3 separate regions of the Homo sapiens genome follow, and regions 2 and 3 are each linked to region 1. The links come from fine-mapping of genetic effects on gene expression. A gene starts in region 1. Each other region holds a variant in brackets. All regions are shown on one strand. Distances are from middle to middle. Region 1 holds the start of FKBP15 (FKBP prolyl isomerase family member 15). Region 2 overlaps SLC31A2 (solute carrier family 31 member 2). Region 3 overlaps FKBP15 (FKBP prolyl isomerase family member 15).

Region 1 (6,325 bases):
AGGCACTGTTCTAAATGCTTTACATGAATTAACTCCTATAATATTCACAAGAAACCTAGAAATGGATACTACCATTATGCCTGTTTTACAAAGGCAAAAACTGAGTAACTTGTCTATGGCCTATACAACTAATAAGTGGCAAAGCAATTTGGCTCCAGAGCTCAAGTACTTAACTACTGTACTACATAGACTCTCTAGTAGTTATTTCTAAAACACCACACTGAATGCTTTCGAAAGACCAGATAAAAGTGAGCACACAAGGCCGGGTGCGTTGGCCCACGCCTCTAATCCTAGCACTTTGGGAGGCCAAGGCGGGTGGATCACCTGAGGTCGGGAGTTCCAGACCAGCCTGACCAACATGGAGAAACCCCGTCTCTACTAAAAATACAAAATTAGCCGGGCATGGTGGCACATGCCTGTAATCCCAGCTACTCGGGAGGGTGAGGCTGGAGAATCGCTTGAACCCGGGAGGTGGAGGTTGTGGTGAGCCGAGATTGTGCCATTGCATTCAAGCCTGGGCAACAAGAGCGAAACTCTGTCTCAAAAAAAAAAAAAAAAGTGAGCATACAGATAACACATAAACTTGCTGTTAGGTGTGGGAGACAACAGAAAAGTCTGGAAGGACATTTCATAAACACCTAGAAAGATTCTGCAGTGAGACTGCTTTGCAAGTGACTTTAAGTATTCATTCCATGTTAAAAATACCATAGATAACGTAGGCCAGGGGCTAGCAAGCTCTTTCTATAAAGGGCCAAAAGTAAACATTTTAGATGTTGCAGGCCATGTGGTTTCTGTTGCAATCACAAATATTCAATTCTGCCTTGGAGGGTAAGAGGAGTCATAGACAATACATAAACAAATGAGAAAGGCTGTGTTCTAATAAAGCTTTACTTATAAAAACAGGCAACAGGGTCCTACACTCCAAGAAAAGGCTGAGGCCTTATGTTAAAAGAATGGCAAAAGAATGTTTATGTGTTCGTTAAAATGTTATGCATATAACTATTATCTGTATGATTCCCTGCTTTAACTTACTTCTTCAGTTAACCAACTAATGGCCCTAAGTCTGCTTTCAGTGACTGAGTGAACGGAATGTTATAGATCCCCTAGAACCTGCATTTAATTCATATTCCTATCATTATGCCTGATATAACTTGGTTATAACTTTAAACTACTAATTTTAAAATGCATGCATCATTACAGATTAGTATGGGTATACTCGTATATAAAGACTGTCATCTCTGTTGCAAAATTGCTGATAATTTGAAAATAATTATTAAAATTGCTGCTTCCCTGAGGGAGTAAGGGGAGTGGAGGGTGGAGAAAAAAAATTGCTGCTTCCTGGCCAATCTTCTGGGGGTTGACAATATATTTTATGAGTATTCTAAAAGTTGTATACTTAAGCAAAACAAATAAACAAAAATGCTTACTTTAAACTTGAGATCAAGGTTGTGCCTTACTTACCTTTGTATCCCCAGCAGTTACTCAGTAGAAGTCCAGGTCTAATCCACTCATTTTACAGTGCTTAGGGAGCCTGGCCCAAACTCAGAGTGAGTTATAAGGGCTGGGACAGGAATTCAGATTTCCTGATTCCTAGTCCAGTATTACCAATCTGAAGATACACGAATTTAGGAAGACAGTGGCTTTCTTTTTTTTTTTTTTTAGGTGCACCCAGTCCTGCAGTTCAAAGCCTGGCAAGACTCACCATCATCTTCCTCCTCCTCATACTGCTAATGAGAATCAGCAGCTGTGTTTCTACAGTGATAATCTGCGTATGCATGTTCGTGATGTTCCAATCACCAAAAAGGCTATTGATTTTAGGATTCCTGAGTACCTACAAAAGCTACTTAAACATCCAGGATAAAATCAGCTCCACCCAAGAATACAAGATAAGAGTTCAAATATTCCCTTGGCCATTTTTTTTTTTTAAAGAAAAGGCTGGAAGGACATGTCATAAACACCTAGAAAGATTCTGCAGTGAGACTGCTTTGCAAGTGACTTTAAGTATTCATTCCATGTTAAAAATACCATAGATAATGTAAGCCAGGGGCTAGCAAGCTCTTTCTGTTAAACATTTAGATGTTTCAGTGCTGCAATCACAGTGACCGGTGTTGGGGAGAGGGATTAGAAAGTGCCATGGTACTTAATCCAGTTACTCCCCCAACACCTCCAAGAGGTAGCCAAGTTCACACACTAAACAGAGCTACTGCAACAGTTCTAGTGCTAGTCCTTAGATTCTAGTTCCAGTTCCGGTTCTAGTGCTTAGATTCCAGTTGCATCATTCCAACTGTGAGCCTTCGCTGCTTTAACATCTTTGCCAGGAGGTGCAAAGTTCTCTGGGAGGGAGCTACCAATCATTTCATTTCAATTTCATACTGACAGATTGAAACATTCACGTAAGGGACACCTGTAGTACCAACCTGACTGTGAGGGGAAGCCCAAGAACTCCAGTGAGTCTGTGGACGCTACGCTGGGACACTATCTCCTTAGCCACACCTTGTCTAAGCCAGGACTACCCCAGGATTGTTTCGAGAATGATACCAGGTTAACCAAAGAAATACTTATGTAAGATACAGATAGGGTGGAAACTGGAGGCAGAGGAGTCCGCCACAATTGATGTTGATTTAGGGCTGTCGCAGGAAGACCCAGGGAAACCCACGCCAAAGTTGGGGTGGGGATGTGTCTGCCTCCAAAGTATCCTCCTTTCCATCACCCACCGCCAGAATATCTTAGCTCTTCTGCACCTCATCCGCGTAGAATACAGGTGGACTCTAGAAAGGGGACTTTCCTCGAGGTGTATGCTACAGTCTTTCAATAGTCACTCTGTAAGGGCACACAGTGCTTAAGGGCTGATAAGGTTCTTGTTCACCCACTAGCTCACTATGTCCTGAATCAAAGGACGAGGAATCCAGTCTCAGTCTGCCCTTTACTCTTTGTGACCTCGGACTAGTCACCCGGGTGCTTAGTTCCTTCGTCTCCCTATCTGTAAATTCTGAGATTACGAGGAGGCCGGGATTGAAATCCATGGCCTCTGAGCTCTAAAATCTTCTGGACCAGCAGGCACATGGAAGAACTGGACAAATGGCCGGTTGCATACACGGGGAAACTGAGGCACCGAGCACCCCGGCCCAAGGTCACTCTGGCTATGCCACTGCAGGGGCCGGGCCGAAGCCCCAGTCTTTAACCCTCCAGTCCCGAGCTCTTTCTCCTTCCGCGGAGCTGAGGAAAGCGGCGAGGAAGGTCCTTGTCCCGCTGGGAAAAGGACGGTACCCATGCACAGGGGTGCGAAAGAGGGGCCGAGAGAAGCCTTACCTTTCCAGGTCAAGTCCAGCCACTAGCACCTCTCTCTCCGAATCTTAACCCGTCACCCCCTCACGACTCTTCGAACGGCCCCTCCACTTCTACCCGGCTCGACGTGTCCACCACCGCCACCGAGGCCGAGGATTTCCCGCCCCCTCCCGCCCCCTAGCATTACCGACCAATCCCTGCAAGGGGCTGTGAAGCTCCGCCCCGCTGCGGGCTGGAGAGGCCTGACGTCACTCGGCGCTCGTGCCCGCGCGAGCCTCTCATTTGCCTTTGCCCCACCTTCTCCAGAGCCCAGTCTACTTTCGGTCCAGAGACCGTGCTGGAGTTCGCCCTGCCGGAAAGCAGCACGCCGCCGCGGCATTTTACGACGTCGGCGGTGACAGGCCCTGGGACTCTGGGAATACCCAGCTTCCTCCCCGCAACCCGGTGAAAGCCAACGCAATGTTCGGTGCGGGGGACGAGGACGACACCGATTTCCTCTCGCCGAGCGGCGGGTGAGTGACTGAGAAGTATGCGCTGGAGGGCGTGGCTGAGAGATACCGGCGGATTGTTGGAGGGGGGTCGATCTCTTCTCAGGCCTTTTCCCAACTTCCGGGGGGAGACCCTTGCCACATTCCGGTGCTCTACACCTCTCAGAATCTGGGCAGAACTTGCAACTGTGCTGACCCTGCCGATCTGAGGTTCGGGACCCGGCATCTCTCTTGGCGGGAAGATAGCCCTGGGTTTGCCTTTTGCATTCTGGGTCACAATTTCTCCGGTGAAATGGGAATGATTGCTGATGAGACTTCCTGCCTCAGAATTTTTATAGGAGTCAGCTGGGGCTGATGTGAGACTTCTTTTCTCCATGGAGAAGGCGAAGACACTTTAGAACCAGGCCTTGGTGGGTCAGCTCTAGCATTCTTCAAGGCCCAGCTCGGATGTCACGTTTTGGATGCTTTTCCTTCTGCAACCTCAGGCAGAATGAATTGCTTTCTCTTCCTTATTCCTGCAGCTAGGTGTGTTTGCCTCTATTCTTATACCCCGCACCTATTAGATTATGAGTCCTCACCGGACAGGGACTGCTTATGGTGTTCATTTCTGTCTAGCATGCAGCATGGTACCTAGCACATAGTGAGTGCTCAGGAAGTGGCTGTTGAATGAATAATAGCTGCGAAATTGCACTTTGTAAAGCTTAAAGCTTAAAACCAACGTAACAGACTTCTGTCATTCTCCAGTTTCCCCAAGCATTATATTAATATATACCAGCCTGGAATAGAAATCTTTAAAGAGAGGAAGGGTTTTGTCTCTTTTAGTAGTCAGTTTAGCCTTTTCCATTGTGTTGTGCCAGTGGACAGCTTGACTTCCTCCAAACTTGTGAGCTACCAAGCTCTGATCATTGCAGAGCTTTTCTTTGAACATATGCTTAACAAATTTTGTGCGTGCTGAAGAATGTACTGGAAAAATGACAAATGCACCACATATGCCCCTTATTCTGCTAAATGCTAAGAGGTTACAAAAATGATTAAACTGCTGTGCCTGCCCTTAAGTTGCTTCCAGATCTGTTGGGCCATGTGGTTTCTATTGCAACCACAAATACTCAGTTCTGCCTTGTAGGGTGAGAGTAGTCATAGACAATACATAAACAAATGAGTTAATAGATGAATGACCATAAAATGACACTGGCCTTCTTTTGTCCTTAAGTAGGAATTTTTGATTTACACTGACTAGCTCTATATTACCTACCTTTTAGTCTTTTTCACTCTCACCACTCTGTTCCCTTCCTACCCCGTCTTTAGATGGCCTGCATTCACTTAGTTCCACTTTGAGTTCTTTCCGTTTCTCAGTTATTTTACAGTTAAGCTGTGCTTTTGTTCCTTTTTTCCCTATTCCACTTTAAATTCGCATTCTTCACTATGTGAAAGTATTTGGGAGAAGTCTGTAATGTTAGGGCTCCCAATTTTCATGCAACAATCAGTCCAAGCTGACTGAAAATTATGGGATAGGTAATGACAGCCATGTGCTCTTTTCCAGATTCCTGGCCAGAGATAAATTCTTGGTGGCTCAACTATTCTTTTTTCCTGAGCAGGCTTCTCAAGGATCTGAGACACTTGAATTCTAGGCATGTGACTGTGCTCCTAGACATAGACAACAGCTAATTTGATGGTAAAAGACATACTGAGGAAAGTTATAGTTTATTTTTGTTCCCCACAGTTATCAGGAAAACCAAATCAAATTTAACACTGAGAATACAGAAAGTTTCACCACAATTCTCTGATTTAGCTATTCCTTTTTTGGTTTTCTCTAAGGAAGTAGAACATATGACAGTGAATACTGCAGCTACTTTTCACTTCCTCTTTTATAGCCATATATTACTGTAAGTATACTTGCTTAAGTTCCAAGTCTCTTGATTTAAACACATGATTTGCTTGATTTCATGAAGGATATTCAAGCCTAATAGAAGTAGGAGTATCTGATAATCTGCCTTCTGAGTTTCTAGGCCTCTTAGAGTTTACTATTAATCTAGAAGTAGTAATCAGGAGCCTTGTTTTTGTTTGTTAGTTTGTTTTAGCCCATTCCTCACCGTTGTGGGAAGTAATAGTAATGAACTAATAGTACTTGGCTTCAGCTAATCCAGATAGGAATAAGGCACAGTTTCTGCCCCTAAGAAACTTTTATTTTAGTAGTAGAATAAAATCAATCCAGGAATAATAATCACAAAGCATTTTTAAGGGGCCAATTATGTATATATTTGTTTTAGATTATAAAGGTATGTGTAGGCAGATCCGATTAGCATAGTAATGATAAATCACCAGTCTAAAGATGGTAGAAAGATAAATTAACCGATCATCAGAAAGCATTTTGAGTTCTGTAAAAGATAGGAAAAAGCCTAGATTCAAATGTTGATTCTATCCCCAGTTAGGAATGTGACTTTGGACAGATTATCTTCCATCCTTGTCCCTCCATACCCCAACCTATTCAATAATGAGGTTTGACCTAGATAAACTTTGAGACCTTTGCCAGTTCTGTAGTTTTAATGTTAATG
Region 2 (6,325 bases), 57 kb after region 1:
GCTCTGAAATGCATATGGAGAACACAGGTGGGCTTCAGGCTCAGTCCATCTAAAGGACAGAAATATGAGGGTGAATGGGGCAAATTTTGTCCCCTCATGTATCAGCCAGAGTGGATTTTGCCTTTTGCCAAAACCTTGAGCAGAGAGCTGTGATGGATCTATGCTCCAGCTTGCATGTATCGGAGCCCTTCCCTCTTGCCTGTGTTCCTTTGGGGAATGTACCAGTTCCTTCCATGAGTCTTTCTTCTCAAGAGTTAAATTTTCATTTGAGAATCCAGAATAGCAATTCTGCCCTTAAAAAAAGGAAAAAAGGGGGAAAAACCAAATTGAGTATATTCTAAGTGACTGCCCTAAATATAGTTGGAAGCTTTTAATTAGTGAGCATATTATTGGTATTAGTACCAATACTGTCCAGTTAACATGTAGTTCTTGGGTACTCTGAAAACGACTTCACAGATGTTGTCATTTAATCTACTAATCCAATGAGGTAGGTACTTTTATCCCATTTTATATATCAGAGGGCTGAGGCTCAGGAAGATTAAATAATTTAACTAAGCTTATATAGCTAGTAAATGTAGAGCCAGAACTTTAGTCAGGACAAAACAGAAGCTGTGAGCCACACTTGAAAATCCTATACTGTCAGAGTTAGAGATCACGTCATTGATGTCCAGAGAGAAGTACGAGGTCTGGCTAATTGGTAGTGACGTGGGATTAGCCCAGAGACTTGTATACACATCACGCTGCCTTCCCTTTTGCCTGGCCCTGTGAAGATGGATTCTGGTTGGCAGTTGCTCACCAGAGCAGAGAATGCCTTAGTAGAGACTATTCAGTTCGTGCCTGTCTGTAGCATCAATCCCTGCTAGCCGGGTAGGTCCTGTTCCCTTGCCAAGCCAGAGGAGAAAGGCCAGGAGCTCAAGCTGTGAAAAGAGAGGGTCTCTCATGGCCCATCAGTCCCTTTCACCCCCACTACCTTAGCTGGAAGGAGCGAGGGTGGTGCCAGTCAGGCTAGAGGTGTGGGAGGCTGTGGCCCCGTGTTCTTCACCTCTTAGGATTCTCCAGTTGGCCAAGCCTCCAAATTCAACTCTTTCAAATGATGGGATCACACCCAGAGCCAGTCAGGCCACCTTAGGCCACGACGACAGTATTTTTCCATATGTGATTGTCTTCTTCCCAACCTCCCTTCTTCCCACTTCCTCTCGCTCTCTCAGGGCTGCTTTGCTTCTGTTTCTTCCTACTGCTCCAGTGTTTCCTCTTTGACCCTTCTTTCTCCACACAAAATGTGTAAGTTACTGCATGAGAGGAAAATCTGTCAAATCAGTACATGTGCTTCATAAATAAATGATGAGATTAGCCAAACAAAGTTCATCTTTTGTCTCTGTTGAAAGACTGCCTCCCTTCTCTGCCTGCTGGTCTCAGCTTTATCTGGAAGCCTAGGTTTGCTGGCCTCAGAGTTGGCCCTGTCAGTACAACCTCCTTTCTGACCCAGAGCTGGGAACAGAAGTTGGATTGCTTCCACTCACAGGTGGAAAGTCCAGTGGTGCAGGCACAAGTGAGGACTGACTGCTCTTTCCTGTTTTATCAGAGCATGAAGGGACGCCCGCCCCCAACGCCCCTTTTTGGAGATGATGATGATGACGATGACATTGACTGGCTGGGATGAAGACCCAGGAAACTGGTGCAAAGGTTTCTCTGCAACCCTTCCCTAAGCATGATTTTGCACAGCCAACCCTGGGTCTAGGCGAACCACAGGGTGAGGTCAAGGTGAGCATTCTGGGAACAATATTTGGGCTCAGAGGGTGGGTTGGCCACCTTCTGAGCCCCACCCCCGCCAGACCTGGTGAAGAGGATCATAACCCTGTCTTCAAGAACACTGGGATTTCAGCAGCAAGTTGGAAGAAGGACTGGTAGGTTCCCCTCCAAGCCAGTCACCTGTAAGAGTCCTGTCCTCTGCCAGACTTTTTAATCTCTTCATTAACTCTCAGACTGACCTGGGAGCCCTCCTCTACCTGAATCCAGTGCTCAACTGTGCCCCGGCAACAAGACCTGGGCTGAGGTCTCCCTGGTAGAACTAAGGGAGATTACACCATCTAAATCCCAGTGCAGTCAACAGCCTGGCCTATAGTCCTGGGACATGTATCTTCTTCTTTGCCTTAAATCTGATACAAGAGGTCAATGACTTTGAAAATAAAACTAAAATAAATGTCTATAATGAAACTTGACCCAAGCCCTTGGAGAAAAATTGAGTTTGGTTCCAAGGGCTGTCTGTGCTCTTTTGGGAATCTAAGGGTAGGAGTCTTACAGATCTGGGTCAGTTAATGTGCACAAAACGTTGTGGCATATTTACTCCCTTTGATACCTAACCCTGGAACTTTTAGGCTTTCAAAGAAAGTCACCACTGTAGTCCTAGCTCATCCCTGGGGCATGATGGTTCTGTGAGGACCAGTCCAGTCATCCTCTTGCTCCTGCAGGCTTAGTCCTGCAGTCTAGGAAGCCATGCAAAGAAGGTGAGAGGGTCCCTTCTTTCCATTGTTCATGGCACCTGAGGGATTCTTCACTTTGAGAGCAGCTTCCATTCCCTTAGAACTCATGGGACCAGGACTTATGCAGAGAACAGTAGTGAGAAAATACTTGTGGTCATTTTCTTGATTCCAGGATCTTCCAAAGATTATGCAATCAGTCTTTAAAAAAACAGAATAATTAATTTTAATAAAAAATGTTTCTTGATTTTAAATGTTTTAAAAGATAGGACCCAAAATTCCACTTCATCTGGCCTGGCATCATCCTTGCAGGCTTTGGATATGTCTCCCGTGTGCGGACCTGGGAGGCAGTGAGAACTAATTATTTCTTTGTTGCTTAACAAAAGGCGGTGCTGTTTGGCACTTTCACAGACTGGCTTATCTCCAGCAACCACTGCAGAAGACAGTGTTATCACCATTTTATAGAGGAGAAAACTGAGACTTAGAGAGGTAAAGTAATTTGCCCAAAGTTACATATCTAGGAAGCCTCAGCACAAGAATTCAAATCCTGGCCATCTGATTCCAGAGCCTGGGCTCTTGGCCAGCACAGCCTGACTGTCACTGGTTGGGGGAAGGGGCGGTGATGCTTTTAGAAACAGGCTTCTTGAGACACCAGGCAGCTTTCCAGTTCCCTGCAAACATGGGGGAATGCCCTGATCAGTCCTAAAGGTGTGACATAGTCTACTTTCTAGGGCAGTTATTTCTTATTGTAAATTAACTAGTGGCTATTATATTTGCTTCTGCCCGCAGGGAGAGAAGATGCTGAGTAATTGTGCCAACACAGGTGCTTAAAGTCCGTGTGACAGTTACTTTTCTTATAGCATGTACTCAATTAATACTTGTTACATGAATGAAGAATGACTTGACTTGCCTCAGTTGGCATTCTGGGGTGTCTACCTGGGTGCAGCATTTCAGGGCTGGGTTTCCCTGAGCAGAGTTGTCTTTGTAGCAGATGGATGGACTCTGTCCTCAGACAGGCTTATAAAGAGTACTACCAGTTCTATTAGCCCCACTCAGCCCCTGCAGTTGTTACAAGGGTTCATGTGCTTTCTGTTGGAATTAGGAGAACAGAACAGTCATAGACTATTTAAAAATATATATTTACTAAAATGTATTTGTTTGTTTTTAATTCCCAAAGCTTACAACCATCTTTTCATCTAATCTGTGAGGTATTTAGTATACAGCAGTGATTTTCTCTCTTTCCTTTTTTATAAAGTGAAGAGGTTCAACTATCCAGAGAGTCCCATCTAACTCAAAAAATGTAATGGCTTTGGTTGGATTGCATCTTCAGTCAGTACCTGCC[CA/A]TGGCTTAATCAGTATTTTAAGTGAATGAATCATGTTTCCCCACTAGATCATTACGAGTAAGCAGTAAGTAATAAATAGAGAATATTAAGTATTGAACATTATTAGATGCAGCTTTTTGTTCTGCATAGAAGAAAGATGAGGATAAAGGAGGGCATTGAGGCCACGAAGAGCTTCCCAGACACCCACGGCCATCAGATCATCTTCTTCCTGCAGGCAGTGCCTTCTGGTGGAAGGAGCTCAGTCTATCAGAGAATAAACCAGGAGCCTGAAAGCAGTCCTGTGTCTCTGCCTTTAATCAGCTGTCACTTATTCTCTCCCCAAGAAAGGGAAATAGGTCTCAGCAGTTTCTGCCATCCATCATGAATCAATGAAATCATTTCATTAAAAATTTTTTTGTATGAATGTGCAAAATTGCCAACTAGGAGTTCAATGGGAAAAATAAAAAAAACTTAGTTTGTCAACATGATCCATAGACGAGATGATCTTCATGTGTTCCAAAGGCAGAAAGGTGAGAAAAAGGATCTAGCTTGGTCTCTGTCCCTCAAAGACAGAAGAGGTCAGGAAGTCCAATGGGCGATGCTCCTGTAGATAAGGCACAAAGCAGGAGAGCTGAGGGTGTCCAGGTTCCATGCCCTGCATCACCAAGAACCCTTCTCCCTGGCTTGAAATCTTTGGAAATTCCTGGTTTGAGTCACAGAGAAGCATTGTCATGGGCTCAGTAACCCTGCCACCCCTGTTATCTCCATTCTCCCTTTGGTCACAGCAGCTGTCTTAAGACACAAGACCATGCCTGGGCCCTACGTAGGCTGGCTGAGAAGGAAGGTTGCTGCAATGGCTTCCGAACTCCAGGGAGCAAGTGCTGGCTTCAGCTCAAAGTTTCCAGGGGCTGGGAATAAGGTGGAGGAATAGCCATCAGAAGAAAGGGCAGTTGGAAGTATAGTGTCTGGAAGAGGGGGCTCCATGTCCCTCCAGCCTCAGTGCCTGCACGTTCCTCACCAGCTAAGCTGTGCTGAGAAGTGGGTAAGCTAGGTAGTAGCCCACAGCAGAGCCCAAGACCACACCAAGGAAAATCCAGGTGTTGTAGGACATTACGGCCAGCATGATGAAGTAGCCGATGACCACCTGGATGACATGGATTAGAGACTGGCCAAAGTGACACAAATACCACCTAGATAAAAAGGAGAAGCAAGTTAATCCTGGTAATGAGCTGGTAATGAGGAAGCTGGGAGTAGATATCAGGGAGTAGAAAGCTGTTGAGTTACGTGACCCGATTGATTTATAACTTGTATGCTTAACCCAGGAGTGATTTCTTTCTGCCCCTCCCACCCCCGCCCCCAGAAAAAACTCGAGATTTATTTTTAAAGAGACATATCTTCACTACATTTGGTTTCAAGCTTCCTGGCATCCTAGGCAAAGGGGAAAATGAGGGTATCTATAATCTGTCTTTCTGATAAGGAATAAGAGAAAATCATCAGTAAGGCATATTTCCCCCCTGAATCTACTTCGGGAGGCAGTATGACAATGGAAAGAAAAAGCATGGTCTTAGGTGACATTATCAGTTCCTAGACCTGCCACTAACTAAAAGTGGCCTAGACAAATGTCTTAACCTCTCTGAACGTAAGATTCCTTATCAGTAAAACAGGAATGAGAATACTTCCCTTGCAGTGCAGTTGTGAAGATCTGAGACACCCATGTAGGGTGGCTAGTGATGGAGCGGGCAGGCTTATTAAGCACAGGTGAGGCTGGGGCTGGACAGAGGGCAGAACAGGGACCCTAAATGGTTGCCTGATTCGAGTGGGAAGGGAGGAGAGGAGAGCTTGTCATCCTCCTCCCACCAAGTGGGATACATTGCTTCAGGACAGCTGCAGATCCCCTCCTGGATATGGGAGCCTAGTGACCCATGGAACTGGTGAGATTTGGGGGAGGGTGGGTGGCCACCTCATTTGCTAGATAGGGGCCTGCACCTGAAGATCACTGTTCCCTAAAGAAAGCCTTCTGAGCCTCTCAAGTGGCTGGCTGTTCACAGAGTGCTTTGGCCTGGGCATCAGGAGACATGAGCTCTAGTTCACTTGGCTATGTGTAGCCACTTTGGCAAGTCCTGGTCCTTCCCTGGGCCTCGCTGTCCTCTCTGTGAAGTGGGGCTAATGCTGTCTGGGCCAGCCTGTCTCTCAGGGTGAATGTGAGGCTTCTGCCCCTTTCCCATACCCACTGCCTGTACCTGTGGTGGGTTCTGCCAACAGGGAATGAATCTGAGCCTGCAGAGTCCCCGTCTGTCTCTGCGATGGTCTGCTGGCTGATGGAGGTTGGCAGGTTCACCAGTACCTGGTTGAGCAGCTTGGCTTTGCCAACCTTGATGCCTTCATACAGTACAGCCAGAAGCAGGAGCACCAACACCGAAAGGGCCATGCCTGTCAAAGGAGGCAGAGTTGTGGAGACCTGGCCAGGCCAGCACTGTTTCCCTTCCAGCACCTCCACCTGTTCATGGAATCCACTCCATCCACCTC
Region 3 (6,325 bases), 33 kb after region 1:
ATTGGTGCTAATATCTCTGCAACCCTAGTTTACTTGTTTATATTCAATCCAACAGGAATTATTAAGCAAATAATTGTTTTGAAGTGATCTCCTAAACCCAGAAGGTTAAATCAAAGAATCAGAAGAAAATTTAAGAATAATTATTATCTCAGATCTTTGAACAGTCACAAAAATGGTCCAATATTGGTTCCATTGTACTCTGTAGTCATAACAACTCGTTACCTATTTCTAAGGCTATAGTAACTTCTAGCAGACTAATGGCCTCCAACTATTTTTCTTCTCTTTTTTTTTTTAAACAAATTTGTTTTTTTTAATGGAGGCAAAATTCACGTTACATGAAATTAACCACCTTTCTTTTTCTTTTTCTTTTCCATTTTAGTTTTTATCTTTTGTTTTGAATAGGTAATTACATTTATATGGCACAGTTATCAAAACAATATAACAAGATCTACATTGTGAGGACTCACTCCTATTCCTGTCCTTATCTACCCTATTCCATCTCACACCCCTTAGGTAACTGCTTTTATTAGTTTCTTATATATTCTTTCAGTGTTTCTTTATGCAGGTGCACACAAGTAGAAATGTATTTTTTATTCCTCCCTCCTTTCACACACACAAAGTAGCATACTCTGTATGTAATGCACCTTGCCTTTTCCATATAACTATATATATATAATTTATATTATATATATATATAATGCAGAATCTTTTCATGTTGGTGTATAGAGAGCTTCCTCATTTTAATCTGCATATCACAATATTCCATTGTGTGCATAAGGTCTATATAACTAGTCCTTTCCTGATGTATCCAACTTTTTTTGGATACATCATCAGTTACGAAAAAATAAGCACACACTCCCAGTATAGGTTTATTGACAAATTATGTACATAAAGTACCACCAATCCCTGTAAGCAAACTCAGTGTCTTACACTGATAGCTTAAAAATAATAAAAATGCAGCCTGGGCAACATGGCGAAGCCCTTTCTCGACCAAAAATACAAAAAATTAGCGCCTGTGGTCCCAGCTACTTGGGAGGCTGGGGTGGGAAGACGTCTTAAATCTGGGAAATGGAAGTTGCAGTGAGCCGAGATCACGCCACTGCACTCCAACCTGGGTGATAGAGAACCCATCTCAAAAAAAAAAAAGTAATAATAATAAAAATGGAGGTTATGATCATTTCCTTCTATACCCAATAGCTCATATTGTGCACCTTCAGGTGTACTTACTTGCCATTCTGAAATTTTGGATCAGTTAATGGAAGCTTCTAGCACAGGGTCTAATGGGTAGTTAATGCCAAGTCATAGTTAAGTGAACCTGAAGTTAAAACAAAGAGCTCCTGTTTCCTTTTCTCCACAGATCTCTTCTGAATTATCTACCGAATTGCTTCAGGGTTTTGAGTGAGGGTACTGTCACCTAAAATGCCTCCCTTTCTTAACATCTCACTTTAATTTTTCATCTGTAAAATGAGACTAATTATGCCTGCTGGGGAGACTTGATTGAAATGAGGCAATGTATGTGAAACCACTTTGTCCATTCCAAAGATACAGGGAATTATTTTTACTGCTATTAATTGTGATCCATGTATACTTCTATGCAAGAAATCTTTCTCATTTTCTAGAGGAAATGTTTTTAAATAGATATGGTAGGGGGATTTGTTGAAGGATTTGATACAAGAGCCAAAGGGATAGAGCTGCCTGAAGGTGATGAGCTTTAATCACAGTGATTTTTGTGACTTTCCTCTCTTTTTAGAGTCCCGATGCAGTCAAAGCCAAGTTGATCTCTCGGATGGCTAAAATGGGCCAGCCCATGCTGCCCATCCTTCCACCACAGCTGGATTCCAATGATTCAGAAATCGAAGTATGTCCCCCTGGCTGTATTAGAATGAATAGTACAGATGTCGCCATCATCTTTCTTTTCATTTGGTTGGAGTGATTGTTTTTTCTCTAAGGCAGAATCATTATTTAGAGAGCTAATATGCAAAATGATACAGATTGGTATTGGTACATGTGTTTCTACTGTGATTAGTACTTCCCTGAGAGATGGAAGCAATTTTGTAGATCTTTTACAAGAACTGGGCAGTTTTCAGTAGTTAATTTAGCCTTCTTTACTAGAATCTCTGTTGTTACTAAAGATCACTCTCTGGGCAGCATGATGCCCAATCCATAGCAGGTGTTCAATTCATATTTATTGAGCGAATGTTTAGATTCTTTTGGGAAATGTTGGTCTTCTCGCTGATGTTGCCTATCACTAAAGCTCCAACTAGTATGTCTTTTGACTTTGTATGTGGTATTCTTGTGTTTGTTTTCTATTTAGAAGTTCAATAATTTTATTGAATTCAAGTCTGTCAATTTTCTCCCCTTGTTATTTGCTTTTGACATTATGCTTAGAAAGCCTCTCCACTTTCAGATTATAAATATCACATGTATTTTTAAAGATATTGATCAATATTTTATAATTAGATCTAAATTTTTAATCCATTTGGAATTTGGTGTATGCTATAAAGTAACTTAATTTTAACTTAATTCTTCTCTAGTGGTTAGTTCTTTATTGAATATAATCGTCCTTTCTCAATTGAAGTGAAATATATAACTTAGACTGATTTTTAGTATTCTTTTACTTTGATAGAAAACAAGGAAAGGGCGATGGTCTTGAAAAAATTTTTTCTGGAATATACTTTATATTTTACATTTTTGTTTTATTTCTTGGAAAAGCTCTATGTAGATTTAACATCTTAAAGGAAGATAGGATTTCTGAGGCCTATTGTTATAGGATTATTTTTTTCTGGTCTGGAAATGCAGTGTAAATAAGAATATTTTTATTAAAAATTTTATGTGCTACTTATTCATTTTAGAATAATTTAAAATTATAGAAAAGAAACATATTGAACAAAAAGGGCATTCATCTTTATATATTGCTTTGTAACCTGATTTTTAAACCTAATGTTGTATCATAAACATTTACATTAACATAAATGATTTAAGTAAATAAAGTGGTTTAAAGGAAACCCAGTGTTCCATTATATCATTTTATTATAATTCCTTTCACTCTGTTATTAGACATTTAGGTTGGTTAAGAGCTGTAGAAATCTAAAACTGGGATGTTTTTCTAGAAGAGAATATAAGGGGACAAGGTGAAGTTCTAAAGTAAAAGAATGTCTGAAACTTTGGTCTTTGAACTATAGCATAGCAGATTACAGTCACTGTATATTGTGCCTCAAGATTTTCTGTTTCTTATATGAAGCAGGAGGTAGAATAACTTTGTTTAGAGTTATAGCTTTGATTTTATGAAAAGCTTTGGTTTTATGAAAATAAAGAATGTTGGAAAAACATCCTAAAACTATATTATCCAAAAACAGCATGTTAATCAGGTGCAGTGAATCCTACGTTATCTGATTTTCATTGAGTACCTTGAGGACTATGGGGATGATTTGTAAGAAGCGAAGAGGCTGGATTATTTCTTGCAAAAGACCACTTTTTTTGTGGGAATAGATTAGATTTGTCTTAAGGCAGTTACTGGCTTGGAAAATGATACATTCTGAAGAGTGGTTAGTTTAGCTGCTTCAGACAATAGAACATCAACCTCTGAGAATATTTGTGGAAATTAACTATATTTACTTATTCAATATGATTATAGGGAGAAGGACTCTTACTTTATTGCATAGCAGAGTGCTTTTTCTCCACAACCCACACCCTCAACTCTTGGCCTTCCGCTTACCTTTCCTTCCTCTTCTTTGCCTAGAAATCCTGTGTTGGAAGCAGGTTTAGGGCAGACAGTCAGCCTCAGTCTTCAATGAGGGACCCCGTACAGAGTAACCCAAACGCTTGTTCCTGTTTCAGGATGTGAACACTCTGCAAGGAGGTGGGCAGCCTGTGGTGACTCCGTCCGTCCAGCCCTCTCTTCA[T/G]CCGGCCCATCCAGCGTTACCACAGATGACCTCACAGGGTAAGGAACCTCTCTGAGGCTCTGTGGCCTTGAACTGGGTCAGCATGAAAATTATCGTCACTGTTCCTTAAACTGTTAGGCTGCATTGTTTCAGTACTGAGGACTAAAGTGTAAATGTAAGAGTGTGACGCTTGTCAGTTTGTCCCTGGGTAAGGCATTTTCATACCCAGAGATGGACCTGGCTGCTGGTTGTGACTTCTGCTGTGTTGCACTGTCAGTTTTGGAAATCTGCACTCAGCTATTGAGACATCTCCCTGGGTGTGTTCTGCACTTCCTGTCGGGTGGGATCCTAGGGCTGAGTCAGAAGCACATGAGAGCACCCAGTTTCCTTCCACTGGCTCATTCCTGAGATTGCAGTAGAGCTGAGTGTAGGGAGACTAGGCAAGGAAAATAGTTGAGTCTGAAGCATGATAGTATGTAAGGTGCTAGTCTAGACTCACACCAAGAAGCAAGGGTGGATAACAGTGAAAATGTCTCCCTTTATCTTAGCACCTCAGCCATCTGTTACTGGGCTCCAGGCACCTTCTGCTGCCTTAATGCAAGTGTCATCTCTCGATTCCCACTCAGCTGTATCTGGAAATGCCCAATCCTTTCAGGTAACATTTTATAACCGTATTAATTATATCCTATAATTTGCTGTGGTTCTAGTCAGTCTCTTTTCTTCTTCCTGTACATTTCATACAGTAGCAGTTCCCCAAAGTCAGAGTTTGTAATTTTTTTCCCTTCCTTGGTTACCACTTTCTCATCTCTAAACCAGGCAAAGGATAACCTACGTTCCAGTGTCATAAAGATTAAATGCAAGAACAAGTAGAGCCCCTAGTACAACGTAGTAAAGATGCAATCAATGTTTGTTTCCTTTTCTTTTCACACATATCCAGTTGAAGCGTGTATATTCGCGTTCTTCTGTATTCTTTTCTACTAAAAGTTGGCAGGCTAACATTCTGCAGTATATTCAGCAGAATGGTATGGTTTAAAAGTGGAACCATGTGGAAAATGTAGCTTGACTCTGCTATCTAGTAAACTTTTCTTAAAGAAGGCCTTTTTCCTGTTATCACAGAAAACAATGGCAGCAGCCTGTTTGCCAGGGGTAGCAGACCCTTTCTTCTGCCTCAACACACTTGGTGGATAAGGCATACTGTCACTGGGAACAGCTGCTCACTCCTTGTGATGCTTAATGGAGGTGTGGGAATGATGGTGGATAGGCTATGCCTCATTAACATGGGGAGTCTCGAAACTGGAAAAAGTCCCACTGTTGCCCTCTTTCTCCCCATCCCTCCTCTCCTCCATGGAGAATTACTATGCTGTAGACTAAGAATTTTTTTTAAGTGGATGCGTAGTTATATCTATCCCTGGAAATGAGCTAGACTTCCTTATTTCAAGGAAGAATTACCATCCTCATTAAAATAAAAGCTGCTGTTTATTAAGCGCTTACTATCTGTCAGGCCTGTAACTTACTAGCTTTTCAGAACTTTACCTATCTCACTTCATTTAGTCCACAGAACAGCCCTATGAAGTGATATTATTATCTTCCTCTTACAGTTGAGGTGACCGAGACTCAAAGGAACATGAGAGCTCTTGGTCTCGTGGATTAGCTTCAGAATCTAGCAGGGGAGAGGCATCCTTGGAAATTGGCAGATTTGGTTTGGAATCTCAGTGAGCACTTCTTCTTTAAACTCAATGGAAGCTAAGCAGAGTTTATTAATCTAAAAACTTCTTAGACAATAGGCCTGATAATGGGGAATGAATCCCTGCTTAATTATCTCACCAGATGACTGGGTAGTGACCTAAGATACACTTTCTTCAGTTTCTGGGTAGGATTTTAGTGACTGGTTTCCCCTGGGATACATAGATAACTCTCCTGCTGCAGTCCTTACCAACTGCCAAACCCAGATCTCACCCATCTCTAGCTTCAGTAAGTTTGAGTCTCCTCCCAGCTCATCCACTTTATTCCACCAAAGAAAAATGTGAACAAAAAAGAAAGACATGAATGTTTTATCAACCAGTGGTAACTCGTCAGTTTCTCAGCCCTATGCAGGTATGCAAGCCTACGCTTATCCCCAGGCATCTGCCGTCACCTCCCAGCTGCAGCCCGTTCGGCCTTTGTACCCAGCACCGCTCTCTCAGCCTCCCCATTTCCAAGGTAGGGAGTAATTCCCTCAGTTTCTCATCTTCCGCTCTTGCTGTGCTTTCCCTCTTCTTGCTCCTCCTTCATTTTCACACCAACAGCTCTCTACTCATTGTTTCTTCTCTTTTTTAACAGCTTTGTTGAGATATAATATGTATTCCACACATTCATTCATTTTAAATGTGCAATTCAAAAGTGTTTTAGTAAATTTGCAGAGTTGTGCATTCATCACTACAATCCTATTTTAGAACATTTCCGTC

Evidence for each region.
Region 2: its variant is fine-mapped to the expression of FKBP15 in whole blood (INTERVAL, PIP 0.94).
Region 3: its variant is fine-mapped to the expression of FKBP15 in macrophages (Alasoo 2018, PIP 0.95). The same link has a PIP of 0.9 or more in esophagus mucosa.

The regions. Positions count from the first base shown.
Region 1 is chr9:113,218,663-113,224,987 of GRCh38, reverse strand. It overlaps FKBP15 (FKBP prolyl isomerase family member 15), which reads left to right and starts at 3,711. Exons shown (of 28, transcript NM_015258.2): 1 at 3,711-3,797. The coding sequence starts at 3,745. SLC31A1 (solute carrier family 31 member 1) reads right to left here and starts at 3,444. Exons shown (of 5, transcript NM_001859.4): 1 at 3,310-3,444. RefSeq lists enhancers at 2,533-2,722, 3,563-3,672, 3,783-3,912.
Region 2 is chr9:113,161,413-113,167,737 of GRCh38, reverse strand. SLC31A2 (solute carrier family 31 member 2) reads right to left here. Exons shown (of 4, transcript NM_001860.3): 3 at 6,040-6,229; 4 at 3,598-4,989. The coding sequence ends at 4,821. It overlaps FKBP15 (FKBP prolyl isomerase family member 15), which reads left to right. Exons shown (of 28, transcript NM_015258.2): 28 at 1,583-6,325. The coding sequence ends at 1,660. Among named protein-coding and RNA genes, the nearest start is that of SLC31A2, 14 kb to the right of the region's middle. The variant CA/A (reference allele first, on the strand shown) is at 3,820.
Region 3 is chr9:113,186,004-113,192,328 of GRCh38, reverse strand. FKBP15 (FKBP prolyl isomerase family member 15) reads left to right here. Exons shown (of 28, transcript NM_015258.2): 12 at 1,751-1,858; 13 at 3,838-3,940; 14 at 4,430-4,536; 15 at 5,966-6,080. Among named protein-coding and RNA genes, the nearest start is that of FKBP15, 32 kb to the left of the region's middle. RefSeq lists an enhancer at 3,595-4,794. The variant T/G (reference allele first, on the strand shown) is at 3,903.